Homo sapiens: one gene and its partners. The protein of the gene in region 2 interacts with the protein of the main gene of each other region in a pairwise test. Each region holds a gene or a part of one and is shown on either strand. Other genes may lie near its edges. The genes, in order: BFSP2, ANKRD33, HPCAL4 and KLHL42.

The links.
Region 1: the proteins of ANKRD33 (region 2) and BFSP2 interact in binary tests that used the Homo sapiens proteins (3 or more experiments, as listed by UniProt).
Region 3: the proteins of ANKRD33 (region 2) and HPCAL4 interact in binary tests that used the Homo sapiens proteins (3 or more experiments, as listed by UniProt).
Region 4: the proteins of ANKRD33 (region 2) and KLHL42 interact in binary tests that used the Homo sapiens proteins (3 or more experiments, as listed by UniProt).

Annotation. Positions count from the first base shown.
Region 1 is NC_000003.12:133,395,880-133,403,079, reverse strand, and holds the start of BFSP2 (phakinin), read right to left. Parts: upstream 3,025-7,200; 5' UTR 2,997-3,024; coding exon 2,508-2,996; intron 1-2,507. Other genes in the region: TMEM108 (transmembrane protein 108 isoform 1 precursor), read right to left, coding at 7,094-7,200.
Region 2 is NC_000012.12:51,883,140-51,891,133, reverse strand, and holds the start of ANKRD33 (photoreceptor ankyrin repeat protein), read right to left. Parts: upstream 3,032-7,994; 5' UTR 2,948-3,031; coding exon 2,803-2,947; coding exon of another isoform or gene 2,776-2,802; intron 2,567-2,775; coding exon 2,316-2,566; intron 2,068-2,315; coding exon 1,938-2,067; intron 1,763-1,937; coding exon 1,652-1,762; coding exon of another isoform or gene 1,554-1,651; exon of another isoform or gene 977-1,553; coding exon of another isoform or gene 975-976; exon of another isoform or gene 708-974; coding exon of another isoform or gene 645-707; exon of another isoform or gene 551-644; coding exon 1-550. UniProt on the Homo sapiens protein: Acts as a transcriptional repressor for CRX-activated photoreceptor gene regulation.
Region 3 is NC_000001.11:39,678,132-39,681,451, forward strand, and holds the end of HPCAL4 (hippocalcin-like protein 4), read right to left. Parts: 3' UTR 517-3,320; downstream 1-516. UniProt on the Homo sapiens protein: May be involved in the calcium-dependent regulation of rhodopsin phosphorylation.
Region 4 is NC_000012.12:27,776,375-27,783,254, forward strand, and holds the start of KLHL42 (kelch-like protein 42), read left to right. Parts: upstream 1-3,858; 5' UTR 3,859-3,956; coding exon 3,957-4,828; intron 4,829-6,880. UniProt on the Homo sapiens protein: Substrate-specific adapter of a BCR (BTB-CUL3-RBX1) E3 ubiquitin-protein ligase complex required for mitotic progression and cytokinesis. The BCR(KLHL42) E3 ubiquitin ligase complex mediates the ubiquitination and subsequent degradation of KATNA1.

The DNA of each region.
Region 1 (7,200 bases), on a different chromosome or scaffold from region 2:
GCAGCTCCACGAGGCCAGATTCACTGAAAAAATCAGGAGCATTTCTCAATTATGGAGTTTTCTTTTGTTCTTCTTGATGGAATAGAGTTTAATATGGCTGAAAGGCTGGGCTGTGCAATATAGAAAAAGTAACTCCAGGCTGGGCATGGTGACTCACTCCTGTAATCCTAGCACTCTGGGAGGCAGAGGCGGGTGGATCACCTGAGGTCAGGAGATCAAGACCAGCCTGGCCAACATGGTGAAACCCCATCTCCATTAAAAATGCAAAAAAATTAGCTGGGCGTGGTGGCGTGCACCTGTAATCCCAGCTACTCAGGACGCTGAGGCAGGAGAATTGCTTGAACCCGGGAGGTGGAGGTTACAGTGAGTTGAGATCGCACCACTGCACTCCAGCCTGGGTGACAGAATGAGACTCCATCTCAAAAAAAAAAAAAAAGAAATAATAACTCCATTTTATCAATTGGTCTTACTCTATCTTCAAGTCCATGATTTTTTAAAAAAGAAGAAAAAGAGAACTTTATTCATACCCAGGCCCTCATTTATAGTCACTTAAGAGGAAAGTGAGCCCATGTGGGATCCTGACCCTCAACTACAGAGGTCGCATGTCTTGGTGTGTGGCTGTGGTGCTCTCACAGGATTTTAGAGCTTCCTAGTCTGTACTCTACCTGTAAGCAGGAGCCAGGCTCTTATTTGTCTACAGATTTGCTGGAATATGTAAGCATTGTTATACCCATTTTGTAGATAATGAAACTGAGGCCCAGAGAAGTTAGTAAGTTGCAAAGGCTCTTGTAGCTATCTGGAGCCAGAACAAGTCAGTATCTATTGAGTATAAACTAAGTTTTGTGGCCCTACTTTTTAACCTAGCCATTGGGATACCTGATTTCTCCTGACAAGTCTGTGTGGCATCTGATTGCAAGCGATTGTCCAGCAGATGCTGACATATTGGAGTATCTAGGGATGTTCTGGTGGTTGTTATGGCACAATATTTGGAATAAGGACAGTTGTGAAGAATCCTGGAGGAATGGCTGCCTCTTAGATTTGACAGGCGTTAAGGCCCTGGACTGTTCTAAGATGGCTCTCCCTTGCAGCCCAGATGGATGCAAGCAGAACAGCAGCACCAGGGGGAGAGCCTGAGAGGATGGTGCTGTTCATCATGCACTCTGTGCTGTCAGTGGGCACTGACAGCAGTGCAGGAGAAGCATCCTGGGATGAAGTGGGAGGCAGGAGGGGCAAATGGGGAGTCCCTGTGTGCAACTGCTTAGCTTCCCCCAGCTATACACAAATAAAATTTTGTGACCTCCTCTTGGGAGGCTGCATACTGGACTCCAGGGGGCCAAGGGTCTGAGTTGGCAGTCCCTGGTGGGTTAGAGACTGATTTTGCTCAGAGGGATCCCAAGGCCAGCATCTGGAGAGAAAGAGGAGGAGGAGAGGTGAAGCCAGCTATCCACAGAGAGACCAGCTGAGAGGTGTAATGCTGGCTGGAGTCCCAGCATTAGAACTACAGGCTGCAGGCCAGACATGATGGATGTGCTCCAGACTCCGCAGAAATCACCCTGGAGAGTGGGAAAAGCAGGGCTGACCAAGCAAGGGAGAAAGATGAAACCTCTGCATCCTTCCCTGTCCAATAAGATAGCCATTAGCTACCTGTGGCTGTTTACATTTAAATTAATGAAAATTAGATAAAATAAAAATGCAATTCCTCAGTCTCATTAGCCACATTTCAAGTGCTTGATAGCCATATATGGCTAGTGGCTGCCAGATTGGACAGTGCAGATATAAGATATTAATATTTCCATCACGCAGAAAGCTCTACTTGAATGTAAATTACCTCATTAATATATTTTGTATTGATTACATGTTGAAATAACATTCTGGACATATAGAGTTAAATAAGCTATAATATTAACTTCACCTGCTTCTTTTTACGTGTTTTACTGTGGGTAATAGAAACTTGTCAATTACCAATGTAGTTCATATTTCTATTGAACAGCGTGGTTGTAGGTGGATACAGGAACACACCTCCATTTATTCATTGTTCTTAACACCTCATCCATCCAATGGTATTTGATTGGATAATAGCTGTAAAAATCCCTTCTCAACAGTAAAGGTGACTGAGGCAGCCCCAGGGTAATGGGGCAAATGCAACTTTGGAGGCACAAAAATTCAGGTTCAAATCTCATCTCCATCCCTCTACTAGCTTTGAAGTCTTGGGCAAATTACATGCCTCAGTTTCTCATCTGAAAAATGCAATCAGTGAATGATCCACTGCATAGCATTTCTTTGAAGTTTAAAGAAGACAGTGGGTAGTGCACGTATGGGGGCTAGCGTGGGCTCCTAGTAAACCTCGGTAAAAGGTAGCATTGTTGTTATCATTACCATTTTAAGTGTGAAAGTGTAGGGGATTATGGTCAGTTTCTCTGGCCTCAGCCTACTCACAACCCTACCCGCTGCCTTCAGCAGCCCCTCCCAGCCCTCTGCAAAGCCCTTGGCACAGCCTGGACACTTACCTGCTGGCAGCTGCTGGCCCAGGAAGCCCGTAGGGCACCCCAGTTTCCCGAGCGTGTGGCTTTGCTCTCCAGGTGCATCCGCAGTTGTGTTTCCAGCTCCTGACTGACTTGCTCAAGGGCGTGCACTTTGGCCATATATTCCACCAGGCAGCCCCCTAGGTCCTCAACAGCACCATGGTCCCTCTCCAAACCTGGAGCCGGCACGGTGGCCAGGCCTGAGCTCCGCAGGCCCTGAAGGAAGACACTGCTGATGCCGAGGGCCCGGCGGGTCACACGGGCACCCAAGCCACCTATGCACCCACTGGGTGCTGTTCCTACATAGACCCCGGGTGCTCGGACAAGGCCACTCATGGCATTGGTCCTGGAGGCTGGGGGGCTCTCCAGGGAGGATGATGACCGTGGCCCCCTGAAGGACGCCCTGCGCCTCTGGAGGGGCATGCTGGAGCTGGCACTGGTGGGCAAGTCCACTACCACTCGCCTCTCACTCATCACCCCTTCTGCCTCTGTGGTGCCCAGTGGGTTTACAGAGTCCAGTGGCTTTTGGTTTACAGCCCCAGCATCCCTGTGGCCTGGTCACGGGCCTCTCTGGAATCTCCCCTATCCCTGGGGCTGCTTTGTCTGCTGTCTTCCATGAGTTTCCATCATTCACTGAGCTGAAAGAGAAATGGGCACTGCCCAGGGCTGTGTGCAGAGAGGCACTCATGCATTCTTTGATGCAGGGTCATGTGCCCAACCTCCCAGATTATTCTGCTGGTGGTGGGGGAGGCTGGATCAGTGCAGGCTGTGGAGGTAGACCATTTGGGTTTGTGCATTTTACTACCTAAGTGGGCAAGGCAGGCATCAAGCAACCCCATTTTACAGATGAGTAAACTGAGGCTCAAGGACCTCAGATGACAAGTGTACTGATCACTTGCCCCAGACCTCAGATTACAAGCTAGGACTCAATCTAGCTATTTCAGGGCTTTCTACATCCCTATGTGTGCTGGCACATGTGAATGTGAACACATGTCCACACAGGCAATAGAGGATGAAAAATGGCAGGAGGCAGCTCCAGGGACCCAAGAGAAAAGACTTGCCTATGGTTTCCTCTCTCAGTCCTGGCAGCAGCTTCAGGTCCTTCCCTCACCTCTCTCCTTTCCTCCTCATCTCTGTCCTCTAATGCTCTGCTGTTCATCAGCTGCTTGCTGTTGGCCAGGATGCTTCCTCCCTCTGGACCTCACTGTCTGAACATTGGCTTGGGCCTTTAACTCTCTGATGCACCAGATAAGGACCTTGGGCAAATTCAGATCCCACACATGTTCCGGCCATTCCCTACACCTCTGCTTCTCCATCTGTTGGAAAACTGAGAAATAAAAACAACAACGAGGGTGTTTTCTGGTAAGCCTCTCCAAGGGTGCCCCAAGTTAGGATATGATGACACCCCTGGGTTTTAATTATTGACCTTGGCATCCACTAAGCCACCAAGGGTCACACCTCAATCACTTCTCTAGGATCAGAAAGGTTCCCCCAGTTACAGGATGACAACATGGACCTAAAAACCTCTGTACATAAGTTTTACCCTGGAGAAACCAGGTCACCAAACCCCAGAGCTGGATACTTTTCCAGATGCTGTAATGTAGGAATGTACCTCAGGTGAGAGAAGGAGAAGGGAGTCAATCTCTAGTGAGTAGCAGATCCAGCCTGGTGTGTGCATGAATCCTATGGTTTATTTCGTGGAATTCTCAACTCAACCTCAGGAGGAAGGAGGTCCAGGGTTGACAGGTACTGCCATATGGGCTGTGTACCTCACAGCTCTAAAATGACATGTCCTACAGTTGGCCACTGTCCTCTTATGTGAGGAGGACCCCGAGAGCTGCAATGACTTGCCCAAGGTTCTATGTCCAGAAAGTAGCAGAGCTGGGGGCAGACAACCTCTTCCAAACTCTGGGCCACTGACTTACTTAGGAGCCTCCCTGTTGCCCACCACCCAGAGAGCAGAGTACCTACCTGAGGTCACGCAGGTAGAGGTAAAAAACCTGGTCGCCTACTAGAGGACCCTGTGTGCACTTCCTTCCTACTGACCAGGACACTCCAACCCTTCCTTTCTTTATTGTCTTCCACTTTGTCTCTCTGAGATGGCCTGGGAGGTATTTTATAAATATCAGTGTTGGCTATTTGATGAACAGATGAAAGAACCAATTGGATTAAGTAAAGGCCAGTAGTGTCCTTGTTTATTCAGATGTAGCATTAATGCTGTGAACACCACCCCTGATGCACCCAGAAGGGGCATGCGAGCCTGTGTTACAGTAACAGCCTCCTATACGGATGACACTGACTTGGTTCTGAGGATCTGCATTATTGTGAATTCCAAGATGTATTGTCCAAGGCTGAATGAAAAGTTCAGGCTACTGATTAAGTTGTGCACAAATGTGTCATGTTTAGGCATTGTTATTCTCTACAGAATGGTAACACTCAATGGCCAGGTTAACTTCAGACTTCTCCGGACCAAAGATATTTACTATATAAATCCACTCAGCCCTGGAGACAGGGAGAAAGAGGGGGGGATGTACTTTGACACCACTGTCTCCAAAGACCTGATGAAAGATGAGTCTGTTTTGGAGAAACTGCAAACATGTTCAAAAAGATTTATTTTATCAAATGATAAACTGCTAATCCTATTAGCTCATCACATACATAAAACTCAACTTACTGTTAAATCAGATTAAAAAATACAGATGGATATAAAGTGGTGTTGGTACTGCTTAAGGAAGACTTAGAGCTTATCTTGAAAAGAATGCAAAATGTATTAGCAACAGAATCCTCTGGCTAATAAAATAAGTTTATTTATATATACATGGTAGCTGAAATCTGTGGATAAGGAAAAATAAGTCATACATCCACATATGTATATATAACATATGTATCTTTGATTACATATATTATATATAAATTTTACTTTACAAACAGATTTTTCTCTGTATACTTACACACATTGGTATATTAAATGTAACAGTTAACAGAAATATTATGGTAAGGTTAAAAAGGTAAGACAACAACACGCTAGAAAATTAAACTTAGAGAAACATTTAGTTGCTTCTTTGTGGGTTGAAGAGTCTTTGAAGAGAGACAACAACCGAACTCATGTGAAGGAGGTTCATACAACATTGAGAACACACTTTTGAAGGCCATCTTTTTTTTTTTTTTAAGGAAAATGCAGAAAGAAAAAAGTCATGATAGACTACAGCAACAACACAAACATATGACCCAATATTCAAGTTCAATTCCCAATCTGACTATAAGAGCATCTATATTCAAAATATACTATCAAACTATTTTTCTTTTAGAGAAAGGAAGTGTCAAAGCAGTAATCATCTCTCTCAGCCACAATCAGGAAAAAATAGAGAAGCGGCCACCTCTGGAAGCCCCTTGGGCGTCTCTGAGGGTCTGACGTTGTTGGCCGTGCTGGACACAGCACGGGGAGGCAGCCAGCCGGCCGGGAACAAGGGGAGCAGTGGAAGCTGAGAGCTGGATGGCAAGTCCACCGGCTGGTGCTGCGAGCAGGTTTGCAGTGCCAAGTAGGAGTATAATGATGTCTTCTCCCAAATGATTTGTTTGGGCAATCTTTTTTTTCTTTTTTAAAGATTGCAGGAGGAAGGTTTCAAAAATTATCGCTCTACTACCTCAAAGCTTCTTAGATAAACATGTTCCTCAGGGGCACGATACCATGGCCTTTTGAGAAAACAAAGCTGAACCCCAATAAACATTTGATCCTTGAAGAAGGAAGGGCAAGCATTTTAAAGCTCCAGGGCCGGGATCTGCATCTAAACCCTCTCCAAGAGAAAGGCACGGGTGTTTAATGCAGATGTGGGTGTTGGAGGGGATACAGGAATGGGCATAAAGGGAGCATTTTCCCACCAGGGAAAGGCAGTCCTGTTGTTAGCAGTGGAAGTAATGTTAGGGGAATATGGCCTTGGGATGCCTTGATGTCCTCCATGGATTCCTGAGGGCTCCATGCTCCTGCCTGCCATCCACAACTTGGATGGAATTAAACATGACATCCAATGGTGCCGTCATAAGGCTCCAGGGTACTCATCCTCAGAGGTGATGAGATGTTCCCTTTTCCTTCTCTGTGCATGAGTCTGCCGTCTTCCCCTGAGGCGGTCCAGTTCCCTTTACAGGTGTGCGTATGAGAAGGGAGGAAATGGGGTCACACCAAATCAAGAGGAACCAGAGCTTTAAGAATCACTCAAAGAATCGTGCGCTTGCACTGTAACATTCAGCTTCTACAGGAGGTCAGTCTCTTACCTCACCTGACCAGGGTTCCTGGGATCCCCAGGTGCTCAAGAATAGTTATTAAGAGAAGCAATCAATGCAACTGCTTTGCTTAGAAATACCTTTATTTTATAAAGCCACAGATCATTCTGTAAAGTTTTTTTTTTTTTTAAACCACACTTGTAAAAAAGATGTTGACAATTCATAGGAAAAAAAGCTGAAAATGTTTCTCATTAAGTCAGGGTTACACAAAGGTTATATTTATAATATATGTATTTGTATATTTATAATTTAGAGACGAAAAATACGGAATGGCAAAGTGATGCCTGCTGTAGTTAGATCTCAGATACTTGATCGTTTCCCACAAACAGTGTTTCTTGACAGAAGGGGTTAACAAGGACCATCCCAGTGTCTCTATAGTCGCCATTGGCTGGGGAGCGGG
Region 2 (7,994 bases):
CTGGGGCTGGTGCTATCCCTGGGTTGTAGCCACTGAAGGCACTTGCTCAATATGCCCTGAGGGCTCTGGTAGGGGACGAAGACCCACGGGGACCTCTGGGGACTCCCTGGCGGGGACTGGGGAACCAGGGGAGGGGGCGGGGCAGTACCTAACAGCTCTGGCACGGACTTGCTTCGGGTGCCCAGCGAAGGTGGATGGTCAGGGCACAGAGTGTGGCAGGCAGTGGTGACGAAGGGACTGGCCAGGCTGGTTGTGGCAGTCACAAGGTGGTCCAGAACACCCCCCTCCTGAGGAGACGGGGCAAAGGGGAGGCTCAAGGTAGCCTGCAGCCGTTCTAGGAGTGAAGGGGCAACCTGGGCCTGGGCCTGGGCCTGGGCCACGAGCCCGGACAAGGCCGGCCACTCGGGCTTGTAGTGCTGGCTAAGCTGCTCCACTTGGGGCCGCCTCAGCAGCTGCCGAATCCTCCACACGGTGTCGAAGCTGTCGGTCAGCACTGCCCATTCCAGGGCCGTCTTGCCCCGAACAGGGTCCACTGCTGTCAGGTCAGCACCTGGGAAGGAGCACAGGGGGTGACATGGGGCGGGATAGGGGTTGGTGATTTGTGGAAGGGCAGATTCTTTAGGAGCAAGACTGATGTGGGTTACATTCGAAGCCATAGAGTCCCATCCTGTTGAAGGTGGAATCAGGGAGGCCAGTGTTGCAACCTCCTGTTTAAGAGAGATTAAGACACTTAGGTCCAGAGAGGGGAAAAGACTTCAGAGAGACCTATTGTGGGGCTCCACCTAGGGCAGAATAGGGATCTCCTCAATCCAAGGAGCTGAGCAGAGCAGCGGTGCAGGCTGCCCAGGACAGGCAGAGGCCTGAGCTGCACCCTCTGGGGCAGGTGGGTGGGGATGATCGGCTGGTTCCCTCTCCTGGTTCTTCTCTTCTCACCATCTCCCTCTCCCATCTTGGGGTTGTGGGAGGAGCAGTCACTCTAAGACAAAAGAAAGGGTGTAGAGCGCCCTCCTTTTTCATTCACTCCTTTTTCACTCCAAACCCAGTGGGGTGTGTGGGGAAGGGAAAAATGGAGGCAGGGGTCCCCCAGAGTGACCAGCAGAGGGCAGCCCCACTGCGGGGAAGAAGGGCCCCCAAACAACTCCATGGACAATGTGGACTTCACCGCACCTCCCCCTGAACGACCCCACAGAGCCACAGGCCTCAACGACACTTCCCTGGATCCCCTGGAAGCCTGGCTTGTCAGAGTTGGAGGTAGTCCCAGGGAAAGCTAACACCCTCACAATACTGGTGAGGCCCAAAGAGGGAAGCCACTCAGCTAGGAACAGGGGCTGGTTCCAGATGCCAGCCTTTTTTCGTGTTAGATTTTCCAGCTGGGCTAGGTTCCCCTCCCACACTTTCCTTCCTGGGACCTCCACACACAATGTCTGAGCTATCAATAGCAGGACTTGGTTGATTGTACGAAGCCCAAATCATGTGCCCCCCCCTCCAGGAAGGTGAACTAGATTGATCCCCCATCTCCACCTCTCTCCTTTCTGCAAATAATCACAGCTGACTTAGTGTCTGGTGGGAAGGCTTGGAGGAGGGACTGGAGGCCACACACCCCGGTCCAGGCCCCGCACACCTGCCATGAGGAGGGTGGCCACGCACTCACAGCGGTTCCGCATGGCAGCCTTCATTAACGCCGTGAGCCCCCGCTGGTCCCGGCGTTCCAGGTCCAGGCCCACATAGTAGTTGAGCAGGAGACTCACTAGAGGCACGTGGCCTGCAGGGCAGCAAGGGTAAGCTTGGTCCCCAGGAAAGGGGGTGATGAAGCTCCCAAACCGCCCTCCACCCAGCATGACAGAGTCTGGTGTAGAACACCGTGCAACAAGGGTGGGGCTGAGGCCCTGTCTGCATCAAAAGGGGGCTGTCGGAAGTGGGGTGCAGCAGCCTCACACCTGCTTGGGCAGCCAACATGAGGGCCGTGTCCCCTCCTTTGTCCTGCTGGTTCACATCAAGGAAAGGACAGTGGCTGAGCAGGGCCACAACACTCTGGAAGCCGTGGTAGCATGCGACCATGAGGCCTGTCTGAGGGAGGGGCAGCTCAGATCCCCTGCTTTCCCCCTGGGCCACTCCAGGGCCCCTTGCACCCTCTAAACCCATATCTGTCCCAGAGCCTGCCCCAAACCCCGTGAAGACCCGCCCTTAACCATTCCCTTCCTCCTTAGGACTGCAGGAGGTATTGCCCCTGAACCCCTCTCAGGGAGCCAGGCCAGGACGGTGTGGTGGGGATGCAAAGATGCCCCCAGCTGTTCTGGGAAGCCAGGACATCTCACCCTCCCATTGCTGTCCACCTGGGTGGCCTCCTCTGGGGAGACCCCACCATCCAGTATGGCTTGGAGCTGGGTGGGATCATTGTGGACACAGGCCCAATACAGGGCCCCCAGCCTGCAGCCTGGGGTGGGGGTCTCCTTGCCCGGGCAGGGCAGTGCCTCAGACATGTCCAGCCGTCTCCTGTGCAATGCCAGCTCTTCCTCTTCCAGGCAGGGAACCAGAAGGTGAGTCCCTTTTCTCATGCAGCTGGCATCTAAAACACAGAATGGAGAGGAGTAGTGAGTGTCTCCCTGGATCCTAGGGAGGGGACCCAGCAGCTGCGAAGTGCACAGCCCTTGCCCCAGGGAAAACATTTATCCCAGCAGGGGTCTCGCCCCATCCACCCTGAGAAAGGACAAGCGCTGGGTCAGGAGCCCTAAGCAAGCAGGGTTCACTCTAGGTCAGCACCCCAGTGAGACTCACGGAGAGAGGGTCGTCGTTTTTTCTTACTTGGGGTTCGTAGGGTATCTATGAGGCAGTCAACGCGGGGCACAGCCCAGGCTCCGCGGAGCACAATCACTGGGTCTCCGAATGCCTCCAGGTGGACTATCCCTCCCCAGGAAGCAACGCAGGTAACAGATGGCTGGACTTTCATAAAGAGCTGCTGCAAACACCTCGGGGCTGAGCCGGATCAAGCAGCTGGGACTGGGGCCCCATGCGGGGCGGGTGGTCACGTCTCAGGAGCGGACTCAGACCAGCCCCAAGATCCTCCGGGTGGGCGGGGCCTGAGCCGGGCAGCTCCTCCCCGCCGGGGCGGGCTCACAAAGACGACTCCTCCTGACGGACGCGCCCACTCTCAGCCTTGGGGACGCCGGCGGAGATGCTGCCTCGTGGGGTCTTGGCCCAACTTTTTAGGCCCAGCCTAAAGCCCCTCCTAATTGGGTGGAGCGCGACTTGCTGAAGGGGTGGTTGCGGGAGAGGGGGTGAGTGAATGCAGGTATCTCATTAAATAGGGTTGGTACTCTCAGAATGACCCTGGGGTGGGGTCTCCAGGGGGGTCACCTGAACTTATTTTTTGAGGTTCTGGGGAAATAAAAACATAATTGTCAAATTATGAGTATAGAGCTGGGCCCGGTGGCTCACGTCTGTTATCCCAGCGACTCAGGAGGCTGAGGTGGGAGGATCGCTTGAGCCCGGGAGGTCGAGGCTGCAATGAACCGATGTCGCGCCACTGAACTCTAGCCTGGGCAACAGAGGGAGACCTCCTTTTAAAAAAAAATTGTGGCCAGGCGGGGTGGCTCACGCCTGTAATCCCAGCACTTTGAGATTCCAAGACGGGTGGATTATCTGAGGTCAGGAGTTCAAGAACAGCCTGGCTAACATGGCAAAACCCTGTCTCTACTAAAAATACAAAAATTAGCTGGGCTTGGTGGTGGGCGCCTGTAATCCCAGCTACTCAGGAGGCTGAGGCAGGAGAATCACTTGAACCCGGGAGGCAGAGGTTGCAGTAAGCCGGGATCGCACCATTGCTCTCCAGCCTAGGCAACAAGAGCGAAACTCCTTCTCAAAAAACAAAACAAACAAACAAACGAAATTGTGAGTACCGACATTATGTGTCTAGTGCAGGTGGGCAGTCGGGGCACAAAGTGCGGCAGGCAGTAGTGAGGGAGGGATTGGCCAGAAATTATGATGTATGAAATTTAATAGATTAGTTTCAGTGTGATAAATTAAATATGAAATATTTAAATTAAATGATCTGTTAATATAATGATAAATTGTTATCAAAATATTCTTTAATATTTATATTACATATTAAGCTTGATGGATTGGTCTTGGTCCACAGATGTAGAAAATGGAGCCAATGATATTCCCCCATTGGTATCACTCCCATCATCAGACTGTACAAGACCTCTCTCTTGTTTTGTTTTACTTTCTTTAGTTTCTCTCTTTCACCCTTAATCCCCACATCCCATTCTCCTCCACCCTTTACCAACTGGCACTTGTATATCCTTGAAAATGTACATTTCATTGAAAAAGATAGTACTGATTTGTGTGTTTTTATTTTATTTTTTTCTTTTTAGAAACAGGGTCTTACTCTGTCACCTGGGCTGGAGTGGAGTGGCATGATCATAGCTTACTGCAGCCTCAAACTCCTGGGCTTAAGTGATTCTCCCACCTCAGCCTCCCGAGAAGCTACGAGCTTCTCGGAGGCACACAGGTGTGTGCCACCGCGCCTGTCTAACTTTTTTATGTAGAGATGGGGATCTCACTTTGTTGCCCAGGCTGGTCTCAAACTCCTGGCATCAAGTGATCCTCCTGTCTTGGCATCCCACAGTGCTGGGATTGCAGGCATGAGCCTCCATGCTCTGCTTGTATGTGTTTTTAACTAACATGTTATGAATTGTGCTATAGAACTTATTCTGTTAGTTTTTTCTTTTTCACTTAAGCTCCATCCTTATTGCTTTAGGTGCAGTGTATCAGTTGGATGTGCATTTGGTTTTTAGTAACCAAAAAGCTGAATGGTATGTTGTCCATAATAGACGGGCTCCTCAACATTAATCTAAAACTGCTTTCAGTGTTTCTTCTGCGCTGCAGAAGTTGGAAAGCTAAAACAACCCTTCCCAGATTCCCTTGAGCTATGACTCTGTGGTTTGCGTCCTGCTCTTGTGCAAGATATAAATTTGGAACAGAGCTACGTAGCATGGGACATCCGTTTTGCTGTCACAGGTCATGGCAGCAGCAGCAAGGCTCTGGTGAGCAGCTTCCTGATTCATCAGCTTCCTGTAGTAGTGACTGTTGTTTTCTCAATCACAGGCAGAGGTCATGTGACTCTCAAAGCTGGGGGTTGTTCCTGGACCTAAGCCTGCTTCTCCATCCCTTTCTGTTTAAACTGATCAGATTTCTTTCTTTCTTTCTTTCTTTCTTTCTTTTTTTTTTTTTTTTGAGACAGAGTTTCACTCTTGTTGCCCAGGCTGGAGTGCAATGGCGCGATCTCGGCTCACCACAACCTCCGCTTCACGGGTTCAAGTGATTCTCCTGCCTCAGCCTCCCCAGTAGCTGGGATTACAAGTATGTGCCACCACCCCGGCTAATTTTGTATTTTTAGTAGAGACGGGGTTTCTCCATGTTGGTCAGGCAGGTCTTGAACTCCTGACCTCAGTTGATCAGCCCACCTCGGCCCCCTAAAGTGCCGGGATTATAGGCGTGAGCCACTGCACCAGGTCCAGATTTATTTCTGTTGTCTGCAATTGAACTCTGACACATGTAGCTTAAACAAAGAGGTGCTTGTTTTTAATACATGATAAAAAGTTCAGGAATAGGAAACTGTTGATGTTGGTTAAGAAACTTGTCAGGGCCTTCTCTGGGATTCTCTTGACTTTTCCTCCTTGGCACAAGATGGCTGCTAAACCTCTAGCCATCACAGCAAAATGGGATAGATGCACCCTATGGAATTCTATACAGCAGTTAGAAAAAAATCTATCAGATGATAAACCAGACATCTCTGATTATCTAACACAATCCCTGTTCATAACTCCCCTTCTCTCTAGTTACCTTTCAGTTAGGTGTTATCATGTAATGCAGTTTTGGCCAATGAAATGCAAACAGAAGTCTGATGGATAGGGATTCTAGGAAAAAAGTTCATGCTGTTGTTGTAAATAAATTTTCAATGCTGCAAGGAAATAGCACTCGAACATAAATTTAATTTTCTCAGCATGGCAATTTTTACTTCTATAGAAGGGTGCGAGTCGTGAATGGAACAATGGCAAGAGCACACCTGGACAGGAGAGGAGAAGGAGTTCTTATTCCTGACACACGGCCCTACTGCTGTGGCGTTCCCCTATTGGCTAGGGTTGGACCGCACAGCCTAAGCTAATTCCGATTGGCTATTTTAAAGAGAGCAGGGATATGAGTTAGAGTGGCGGGGTGGGTAGTTTGGCGGGAAGGACAGTTAGGAACAGGGAACTAAAGGTGACTTAGATCAGAGCAGGTGACCAGGGTGACTCAGGTCAAAGCAGGTGACTGGGATGACTCAGGTCAAAGCAGATAAACGGGATGAGTCAGGATGGAGCAGCTGACCAGAGAACAGATGTGAACTACTGATTAGGACTAGAGGGAAAGTTGTTTACTAAAACCAGGAGCAAGGGAACGGAAGAGAACCAGGAAGCTAAACTTTAAAATGGATAATCAAAGAATAAGAGAGCTGAACATACTGACATACTGATTCTTTGAAGAGAAACTTGGGGTTCACTATAATTAACACTGTCTTGATGAAAGATGTAGAGTGCACCACTTTTTTTCTTTCTTTCTTCCCTCTTTCTTCCCTCTTTCTTCCTGCTTATAGAATTCCATAGTGTGCATCCACCTCATTTAGCCTATCCCTTCTTCCTGCAATAGATGCTTAGGTTGCCTCCAACTTCCTGTCACTATAAATAATGCCAAAGTGAACACCCTCATACGTATCTAGTTGTGGACCCATCGGGGTCTCTGAGATCACTAGATCACAGGGCACATACACACTTACTGAGTGGATACTCAGGTTGCACTCTGTTTCACCATGTGTGCCTACCAGCAGTGCATAAGAGTCTCCCTACGTCTTAGACAACACATGTCATTATTCAGCCTTCTAATGTTTGTCAATCTGATAGAACTATAAAGCGATATTGCTATTTTACATTGAATTTTTCTGATTATCAACAAGGTGAGCATCTCTCCACATGCCCTGCTGGCCAATCTTGTTTTCCCTCCTGTGAATTGACTGTTCATGGCCTTTGCTCAGTATTCTATTGAATTTTCCTATCCTTTTCTTATTGATTTTTCAGGAATTCTTTTAATATTCTAGATAATAAAGCCATTGTCAGATGGGTTATAGATGAGGCAACTGTACTATATAAACCCTTCTGTTAGCTTTATCTATGGTGACCTTCATTGAAATAGCTCCTGAATTTTGATATGGTTAAATTCACCAGAATTTCTCCTTATACTTTGTGTTCAGGGTCTTGTTTACTAAGAATTTTCTACTCCAAGATCACAAAGATCTTCATTTCTTTTATTAATCTTGCAGTTTTATTTTTAATATTTAGTCTTTAATTCATCTGGAATTCACTTTTATAATATTGAAGAAATAATCTGTTATAGACTAAATTGTGTCTCCCTCAACCAACCCCAATTCATATATTGAAGCCCTGACACCAAAAATGACTGTGTTTGGAGACAGGGCCTTTAAGGAGGTAATTAAGGTTAAATGAAGTTATTAGGGCAGGATAGGGCCCTAATCCAATAGAACTGTTGTCCTTATAAGAAGAGGAAGAGACACCAGAACTCTCTCTCTCTGTGCCTGCACAAGAAAAGGACACGTGAGGACACAGTCAGAAGGTACCATCTACAAGCCAAGGAGAGAGGCCTCTCTGGAGACCAATCCTGCTGACACCTTGATTTTGGATTTCTAGCTTCCAGAACTGTGAGAAAATACATTTCTGTTGTGTAACCCATCCAGCCTGTGTATTTTGTTAAAGCAACCTGAACAGACTAATAAAGGATCCAACCTTATTTTTTTCTCCATTTAGCAAGATAACTCCATCTATTAAACAATTCTCTCTCCCTTGATTTGTGGTGTCGTTTTTATCACATGTAAACGTTGAGTTCTCTTTTATGTTTTATGCTATGTTTCAGTTATCTTATAGCATCTTATGAGGGCATTCCTG
Region 3 (3,320 bases), on a different chromosome or scaffold from region 2:
TTTTATTTTTTTATTTTTTTTGAGATGGAGTCTTGCTCTGTCACCAGGCTGGAGTGCAGTGGTGCGATCTCGGCTCACTGCAACCTCCGCTGCTCACTGCAACCTCAGCCTCCTGGGTTCAAGCAATTTTCCTGCCTCAGCCTCCCGAATAGCTGGGACTATAGGCGTGCACCACCATGCCCAGCTAATTTTTGTATTATTAGTATGTTGGCCAGGATGGTCTCGATCTCGACCTTGTGATCTGCCCCTTGGCCTCCCAAAGTACTGGGATTACAGGTGTGAGCCTCTGCGCTTGGCCTGAGGTTCAGTCATTCTTGATTTTCCATCTTCAGAGTCCCTTATAATCTGCTCCCCCATTTCTTTGAACTAGCTCAAGTGAGTCTCATGCCATGTTCCCAGAGTCCTTGCTAGAACAAGGACCTTGGCCCTTCACTGAGTGAGCCTCCCCAGGCCTCTTCTGTCCCTTTCTCCCCACCCCAATCCTGTCCCAGTGTAGGGAAGAGCAGGAGCCCTCAGCACAGTTGCACCTTTTATTCACTGTCAGTGGGGAAAGAAACACACCACACAGCACAGGGTTGAGCAGTGAGGGCAGTCACTGAGTGCACAGCCAGAAGCAGCACATCTGGAGGGGATAGGGGGCTACACTGGAACTGGCCTCCTTCCCCTGCTACCCAGACCCCCCACTTCCCCAAGCCTCCTTTCTACTGCTGCTTAGAAGGCCCTGGGCCTGACTGGCCTCCACCAAGCAGGAAGGGCTATACACCCTGGCAGGCCCAGTCCTGCCCCCACACTCTGGCAAAGGTAAAAAGAAAACCTCGAAAATTCCAGAAAGAAAATCCCATATTTTTCTGACTTTTTAATTCCAAGGTTTGAATTATTTCTTTTTTCAAGAATGATGAATAAAACATGTAAGACATTCTTGACCCCACAGTGATCTCTAAAGTCAGCTCAAAGCCTCACCCAGGGTGGATCTTCAGGAAATATTTGTTGCTTCAATACATTTTTGTGTAAAAAATATTTAGTGTCAGCTTACTACCCTGCCTGGAGACCCCAGCTTCTTCTCTTTCTTTTCTTTCCCCCATCCCACGCCATTCCTTCTCTCTCTGCAGCAAGGCAAATTTCTACCTCTAGAGACTCTGCCATTGTCAGGAAAGGATTTAGTGCCTTTACTTATGAACTAACTTTTTCTTCACTTTTGATATACAGGTAAGTTAAATAATCCTGACTACAGCTGAAAGGACTAAAGTGGCCATCTGAAGTAGCCTTTGCTGATAATTTTTAGAGATAAGAAATAAGATGCTCATCAATTAGCCCAAAAGGATGAATGAGGGTAGAGTATGTGAGAAGGCAGATTCTGGGACCTTGCAATTCACAGAGTTGTTGCAATAAGATTGGAATTTAAAGGAGAGTTTGAATATATCAATGTTTTGATTGTCTGTATATTTTTGTGTCTGTGCAAGTCATACATAAATCTCTGCCAGCCTTGTGCTTTGCGGCAAGTCTCTCTCAGCTGGTGCAGGGACGGGAGACCTGTGTCTCTTCTCAAGGCAGGGCCAGTGCTCTACCACAGTGCTCCTGAGCACACAGTCCCTGGGACACCCAGGAGTATGCAGGAGCATGTCCTGGGCCACCTGTTGTTCCTTCCATCAGCAAGATGGTGGTCCCAGTTCCTGGCCTGGCATTGTGTGTTCACACTGCTGGGCTGTCTGAGAATATTGGGCCTGAGGAGCAAAAATCACCCATGGGTATGTGTGTCCAGAAGCCTGGAGTAATCAAACACGCCTTCATGGGTAGGCATGTTTCTCTTAGTGAAGATGATGGTGGGTAAAGACAATGCAGGATGCTTCGAGGGTTCTGAGTCAGAGGACTCCCAGGACAGCACTGAGCTGTTAGCACAGCTGCCAGAGGCAGAACACTGAGTGCTTGAAAATGTGGGGACTTCAACCAAGCTCCTATTTTTTTTGGAAGACCACAATCTCAGAAGCTTTTTAGCAGGAAGCCTATAAAGGATGAATATCAATGTAACTTGCCCTGCTGTCAACCTCTGCACAGCTTAGTCACAGAAATGGACAGGGAAGAGACTCTGAAAAGAAGAAATCCTCTTAGAGCCTTGGTTCAAGTCTTAGCCCTGTGTCACCTCCTGACTATGTGATCTTGCACAAGGGATGCTTCCTCTCTGAATCTCAGCTTCCAAGTCTAGAGAAAAGAAGTGAAAATCCTCACCTCCATGGGATGTGAGTATAGAATGAGATGGGGCACATGGCAAGCCTTTGAAAGCCATGAAATTCTGTGTGGTTGCGAATTAGGCTAGATTCAGCATTTGCAGGGAAGGAACCTCACTTAGTGAAAAGCTTTTCACCAGAAGATTTAGGTCCCAGCTAAGCCAGGCTGGTGAGCATCTATGTGTCTGTGATGCTGACTGACCGCACAAGACATACCTAATAGCCAGTTCCTGGGAGCAATGCAACATCCTTGAGGCATTGCTGGATAAACAACTGCTAGTTCCTGCCTGAGGATGTGAACTCCCCAGCCTCACCATATGGCTGGTCATGAGCAAGAGGATAGCAAAAGGATAGCAACCCAGTGGTTGCAAACCAGTGGTTGCTATCCCCAGCAAGAGGATAGCAACCCAGTGGCCTTGCTACCTCCAAGGGCCCAGTAGAGCTTGGGACCAAGCTCTATTGATCAGCATCCCCCAGAGTTTTCACCTGCAGAGAAGCAGGACAGGTGGGCACTCAGGAGTGAGGAGCATGCTGCATCTCTTTCCTGCAGATGCAATTCCCCTGCCCCGGGCTCAGCAATCATTTCCTGCTCCCACCCTGGGCTGACAGCACCTGTGTACTAGACTGTTTTCACCGGCAGTTCAAGAGGAAATCAACTGTCACTGCACGTCAAAGGTAATTTCTGATCACAAGTACAGGAGAAAGACCTGATGAAGAAGCAAGATTAATTTTTCCGGCAGTCAAAGCATGCAGCTGTATAGCTCATGGATCCAAAATTGGGAAGCAGGCATTGGAAAGCAGAACCAGCACACTTGGAAGATGTTGAACTACCTGGCAGATCTAAGATTTGGGGTTAGAAAAAGCCTCTCAAACAGAGCATGCCTGGCACATTTTTAGGCATTTCGTCCATAAATTATGTCTGGGTGCCTAAACAGTGGCCAGGTGAGCCTTTTCTTCTAGCTCTTTCTGATTCTGTGGCAGTGAAGGAACAAGTCCAGTTCTGAAACTAAACCCAATCCAGAAACGAACTACCAAGATACGGAATATACACTAGTTTCACTCTTTGCAAACCTTGCTTTTTCCTGTCCCTGAAGTCAG
Region 4 (6,880 bases), about 24 Mb from region 2:
CTAAGATTTTTTTTTCTACTTGCTATTTCAAAAGGGATATTTTCCATAAGTTCTTTAAAAAATGACCTACTTCAGCTGGGTGTGGTGGCTCATACCTGTAATCCCAGCACTCTGGGAGGCTGAGGAGGGAGCATCACTTGCGCCCAGGAGTTCAAGACCAGCCTGGGCAACATGGTGAAACCCCGTCCCCACAGAAAATGTAAGAATTAACCGGGCATAGTGGCGCAGGCCTGTATTCTCAGCTACTTGGGAGGCTGAGGTGGGAGGAGCACTTGAACCTGGGAGGCCTCTGGGAGGAGCACTTGAACCTGGGAGGCTTCATTGAGCCATAATAGTGCCACCACACTCCAGCCTGAATGGCAGAGTGAGACCCTGTCTAAAAAAATAAAAAATAAAAAATAAAAATTACCTAACTCTATTTGACCATTACGCTTCTGTAAAACTGTTTTACAGATAGTACCACAAAACTGGTTTTTATTATTCAATGATCAGTCAATAACAGATCTATAAAATTATACCTCCAGTTATATAAAGCAATATTTTCAGGAAGACTAGGAATAATTTTAGGTCTTTTTAAAATAAAGGAGTTTATATTGCTCTGACTTTGCATTTCTAGCTTAACAGAAAACTTACTGCATAATTTATTAAAATGATTTGATCATTTAAGATGCTCCCAATCCTAAATAATGTTATTATCATATTGGGAGCCAAAAAAACTCACAAGATCAATGCCCAGTATTGTGAGACTAATACCCCAGACTCCCTGTCCAACCTCATCTTACCCTGATAATGTTACTGTGCTTGAATTGCCTTTCTAATGCACATCATTCTTTGAGCATGATTTTTTTGGTCTGTTTTAAAAAGGCAAGAAAATACCAGTCTGAGGCATATCTATGACGGCTGGGAAACAAAAGCATCCATTGGTGAAAGATTCAAGAGACAGAGGAGAGACTGAGAGCCTGTTCTTTGTGGCTGACCCACTGAATCTGGCATTGTTGCCGGTTGAGGCATAGAAAAATCGTAGGTCCAAGTCTCTTTGATACAGGGGACGCATCCCAGCAAAATTCCCCAGCCTGATGCTTAATACTGGATGTTACACTCTACCATCCCAAAGAAGCTGCTAAATGCTTGATCACTCACTCCACCTCCTGCTCCAAAGCTTATCGTGTCTCACTGCACCCTCATAGAGAATGGAAGTGTGAAGGGTTGATGTGAAAATGGAGTTTTATCAGTAACGATTTAAAGGCCAGGTGAAACAAGGTGAAGAGATGAATGTTTTTTATAGAATCCAAGAAAACAACTGAGTAAGTCATAGATCCATTTTTATTTCCTTCATTTTTTTCCAGGGAGGCCAGAATCTACTAGAACATTTTCTATGTCTTTTATTTTTTAGTTCCTTATTCCTAGCATTATTATAAAGAAAATAGGCCAGGCACAGTAGTGCTTTGAGAGACCAAGGCAGCAGGATCACTTGGGGTGGCAGGATCCCTTGGGGCCAGGAGTTTGAGGTCTGTCTTGGGCAAGGTAGCAAGACCCTATCTCTATGGAAAAAAAAAATGCATTTTTTTTTGCTGGGCATGGAGGCTCATGCCTGTAATCCCAGCACTTTGGGAGGCCGAGGTGGGTGGATCACGTGAGGTCGGGAGTTCCAGACCAGCCTGACCAACATGGTGAAACCCCGTCTCTACTAAAAATACAAAATTAGCCGGGTGTGGTGGCTCATGCCTGGAATCCCAGCTACTCCGGAGGCTGAGGCAGGAGAATCACTTGAACCCGGGAGGTGGAGGTTGCAGAAAGCTGAGATCGCAGCATTGCACTCCAGCCTGGGCAACAAGAGGGAAACTCTGTCTCAAAAAAAAAAAAAAATGCATTTTTTTTTCTAAAAAATAAAAAGATAAACCTCCTTTCCCAAGTAATAATAATAAACAAAGTAAAAGATGACAACAACACCTCTCTGTGAAGCAGATAAATTTCGTAGTAAGAACCACAAATGTAACCAAACTATGTTGAAAGGATCTCATGTTTCACCTTTGACTTTCTTTTAGTTCTCTGGTTTTTAACCCTTTCTCCTTCCTAAGGTAAAATGTTAGCATGGTAGGATGTATCTTCTTTAAATAGGGGAAATGTACTTATGAAGAAGATATTATTTAACAATCTGTCATTCAAGAAGAAAGCTGAAGCTTGTAATAATAAAAAAAAAAACCAAACACATATTCTCTCCAAGTTAAGGACTGTTTATCATAGGTGGTTCTCAAATCTTGGTTTGGGGTAAGTTTTCAAGGTTTTCTGTTTTTGTTTTGTAAGATAAGAGTGAACACACCCTCTGCTTCCTCCCAATCCTTCTCCCTTCTCCTACCCAAAGATAATCCAAACAATATATTTCTCCCCCCACCCCCTTCCTGGGATGAATTCATTAGCAAGACAAAAAGTCCTTCCTATTATTATTTGGGGTGGGCCTTCTAATTGCAATGTTCAGTGAGAGAACATAGGAAACAAGTGGTCTCTCTTTTCCGAGACGGCGTCTCGCTCTGTCGCCCAGGCTGGAGTGCAGTGGCGCGATCTCGGCTCACTGCAACCTCCGCCTCCCGGGTTCCAGCAATTCTCCTGCCTCAGCCTCCCGAGTAGCTGGGATCACAGGCGCGTGCCACCACGCCCGGCTAATTTTTGTATTTTTAGTAGAGACGGGGTTTCACCATGTTGGCCATGGTGCTCTCGAACTCCTGACCTCGTGATCTGCCCACCTGGGCTTCCCAAAGTCATGGGATTACAGGCGTGAGCCACCGCGCTCAGCCAAACCGCACGTGTGGTCTCTCTTAATAGTCCTCAGATGATGGGGGCAGGGTAGGTGGAGAAAGGGGGTGACAAGAAAAGCTACTTCTTGCAGACATTTATGAGCCAATTTTGTCAGATCTTTTGCGCCAGGATAACATTCCGTAATGGACTGGACTGAAGTAGAAAAGCAATGGCTCATAGAAAACATGGTTTAAAACCAGAAGCCACGTGATGTAACTTTATTTAGTCGGGCTGCGCTTTCATCTTTCTTTTAATAACTTAGGGAGAATAAGGGGCCCCAGTGGCAAATGCAAGCTCCCCTGCCTCCCAACCCGATTCCTCTGAGAACCTGCTGCCATCTGCCTGGACCTCCTGTAAGATGGCTCCTACGCGACCACGCTACCAGAGAATCAGCTCTACGTGCCACCAACATTGCCACCAACTGTCCATAGATCGCCTGCGTGCCTCAGCCCACTGACACTCGATGCCGGACTGGGCCAGAAGGACGACCCCATATTTGATGCCTTTTTGTCTCCCTGGACCAGAGACTCCATCCTTCCCTTTCCTCCCACGCTCATTTCTTTTTCTTTAGCCCGTGTAAAGCAGCGTGGGAGAGAAAACGAATTTCTTCTCCCTGGGGTACCCCGGAGCATCACTGCAGCCCCCAACAAGCGGCGGAGCCGGCGCGCCCCGGGCGGGCGGAGAGGCTGCGGGGACGCGCGCCCTCCGCCTCCCGCAGCTGCGCGTCCGCAGCCGAGGCGCCCGGGCCCGCAGCTTCCCGGGCCTCCCCGAGAGCCGGATCCAGCCGGCAGGTCAGGCCGGCGGCTGGGGTCCCGCGGGCGGAAGTGAGAAGGGCGGCGGGGGAGGAGGCTGCTGGCTGGGAGCTGGAATTCCCTTCCCGCCTGGCGCCGCCCGGGAGAGCCCGCGCGAGGACGCCCGCCGCGCTCCGCCGGCCCTTTTTTGGCGCTGAGGGAAAGGAGAAGGGCAGGGCCGCCGCCTCGCGGGAGCGGGCCCCGGGAGGAGGGGCCGCCGGAGAGGCCGGGCGAGCGCGGGCGGCCCTCACCTCGCCGCTCCTCCCGGGCCGCCATCCCTCGGCGCCCCGCCCGGAACCGGCGCGCGCGTAGGGGCTGGGAGGCCGGCGCGCAGATCTGGCGGTGAGCGCTGCCGCCCCGGGGCCCCCAGCCATGTCGGCCGAGGAGATGGTGCAGATCCGCCTGGAGGACCGCTGCTACCCGGTGAGCAAGAGGAAGCTCATCGAGCAGAGCGACTACTTCCGCGCCCTCTACCGCTCCGGCATGCGCGAGGCCCTGAGCCAGGAGGCCGGCGGCCCGGAGGTGCAGCAGCTGCGCGGCCTCAGCGCGCCGGGCCTGCGGCTGGTGCTGGACTTCATCAACGCCGGCGGGGCCCGCGAAGGCTGGCTCCTGGGCCCGCGCGGGGAAAAGGGCGGCGGGGTGGACGAGGACGAGGAGATGGATGAGGTGAGCCTGCTGTCCGAGCTGGTGGAGGCGGCCTCCTTCCTGCAGGTCACGTCCCTGCTGCAGCTGCTGCTGTCCCAGGTGCGGCTCAATAACTGCCTGGAGATGTACCGCCTGGCGCAGGTGTACGGGCTGCCCGACCTGCAGGAGGCCTGCCTGCGCTTCATGGTCGTCCACTTCCACGAGGTGCTGTGCAAGCCCCAGTTCCACCTCCTGGGGTCTCCTCCCCAAGCTCCAGGGGATGTCAGCCTGAAGCAGAGGCTGAGGGAGGCCCGGATGACTGGGACTCCTGTCCTCGTGGCCCTCGGGGACTTCCTGGGGGGACCCCTGGCCCCTCACCCCTACCAGGGGGAGCCCCCGTCCATGCTCAGGTACGAGGAGATGACTGAGCGTTGGTTCCCGCTGGCCAACAACCTTCCTCCCGACCTGGTCAATGTCAGGGGCTATGGGTCTGCCATCCTGGACAACTACCTCTTCATAGTGGGCGGGTACAGGATCACTAGCCAGGAGATCTCCGCTGCGCATTCCTACAACCCCAGCACCAACGAGTGGCTCCAGGTGGCCTCCATGAACCAGAAGAGGTAAGCACCCCGGCAGAGTGCTGCTGCCTTCTCATTCATTCACTTGTTCATTAGTTCATTACCCCAGTGTTTACTGAGCCAGTAAATAGGGGAGGGTGTGCTGTGGTGGAAATGACATCTTCAGGAATGTTGTTGGCCTTGGCGCTGGCAAAATTCCCAATGAACTAAGAAATTGCGAAGAGGACGTCCCCAGTGAGGTCAAGAAGTGGAGTGGTTTTTTGGCAGGTATTGTGCCTTTAGGTGAAACTGCTTTCTTTGCCTCTGTTCTTGTGAAAAAAGATGTTGTGGTTTCCTACAAGAATACTTTAAAAGAAAATTGCCCCTTAATTTTTAAAAAATTTGTCTTAGTTTTTAGGATTTGATCCTGATGATAATGATACACTGGACAGTAACCTGTAACACTGACTTTGGGGGATTTTTTTCTGATGTCAGTGACTGTGACAACAGAGTCTTCCACACTGTGATACCCATCATGATCAAGAGATAATCACTGGAAATGTATTAACGTTTGCAATAGGGGTTGCTTTTCTTATTTTTTATCCTCTCTTTTGCTTCCTTCCCTGGACAGCCATCGTCATGACCCACAGCTTGAGCCTGGAAGTGTTCAACTACAGAATTGGAATATTTTCATTTACGCAACCTTCTCCCCCTCCCATCCTGCAAATCTCTCCTGCCTCCAACAAGGGTGACTTGAAGAAAGGAAGAGGAGGAGCTTGAGGAGTGGGATGAGAGGGGAGAAGGGAAAGGAACCAGGGAAGGAATATCAAAACAAGAGCAAAGAGCATATACAGGAAGAGATGGTAGGAAATAAAGATGGTAGCGCCTAGGAGGCCTCAGCGTCATTCAGAAGCAGGGAAAAGAATCAATGTAACTCAAGAAAGGATGAAAATACCCTTTCTTCCCATCCACGTGTTTCCATCTCAATCCTCACAGGGTCCTGGTCCTGAAGTGTGGAGCAAGGAGTTGGGGAGCTCACAGCTGGGCAAAGAAAGTCTTAACAGTAACAGAGAATCCTTTATATATCTGTTTATTTGACTCGAGGGTCCTCCTCGGCCAGGGATTATTTGGGGGAAATAACTGGCTTTATTTCTCCTATAATATGAAATTCATTTTGAAAAGTATGCTTTTTCCCCTGATAATACATAGTTACAGAAAACTGGAAAATGGAAAAGAATGAAGAAGCAAAAAGATGATTATTCCTACCCGCTCTTCCTAGAGGCAGTAACCAGGTTGGCATATTTCCTGCCAGCCCATTTTTAATGCATTATTTACACCATTGAGATGATACCATATTTAAAATTTGGTATCAGAAGTGTTATTTTAAAACAAATTCTATGCACTGTAATTGAAACAACAAAGGAACATTGTGTGGCCATGGGTGGTGGTCTGATTAGGGGTGGGCGGCCCTGAGTTCTCTCACTCCTCTTGCATTCCTCTAGCTACACATCATTTGGTGCTCACCAGGCCATCCTTAGTGCCACAGTTCCTCACACTTCTTTCTTCCCTTCATACATCCTTGGTAGTCTTTGTCTTTTTTTCTAGGAAGGCCCTTTTCATCCCCTTAAAAAAAAAAAAAGCATTCAAGTAATGCATGAATGCATGATTCTTAGAAAAACTGCAAATTACACACAAAACTGTGGAGTAAAAAGAGTAAATGTCTGCCCTCAGGGTACAGAAAAAAAGTGTCAGTGTATCAACAGACTTTTGTTACCTTTAGATATTATAAATGTATAAACATTTATACTGTAAATTATATGTATACTTGTATAAATACAGTTAACCCTTAAACAATGTGGGGGCCAGGGACACCAAACCCTGCACAGTCAAAAATCCCCATATAACTTTTGACTCTCCCAAAAACTTAACTACTGAATAGCCTACTGTTTACCAGATGCCTTACCAATAACATAATCAATTAATACATTTTGTATATGTAGTATATACTTTATTCTAACAATAAAGTATGCTATAGAAAAGAAAATGTTATTAATAAACTAAGGAAGAGAAAATTAAGCGGAAGTGGATCATCCTTATCATCTTGACGCTGAGTAG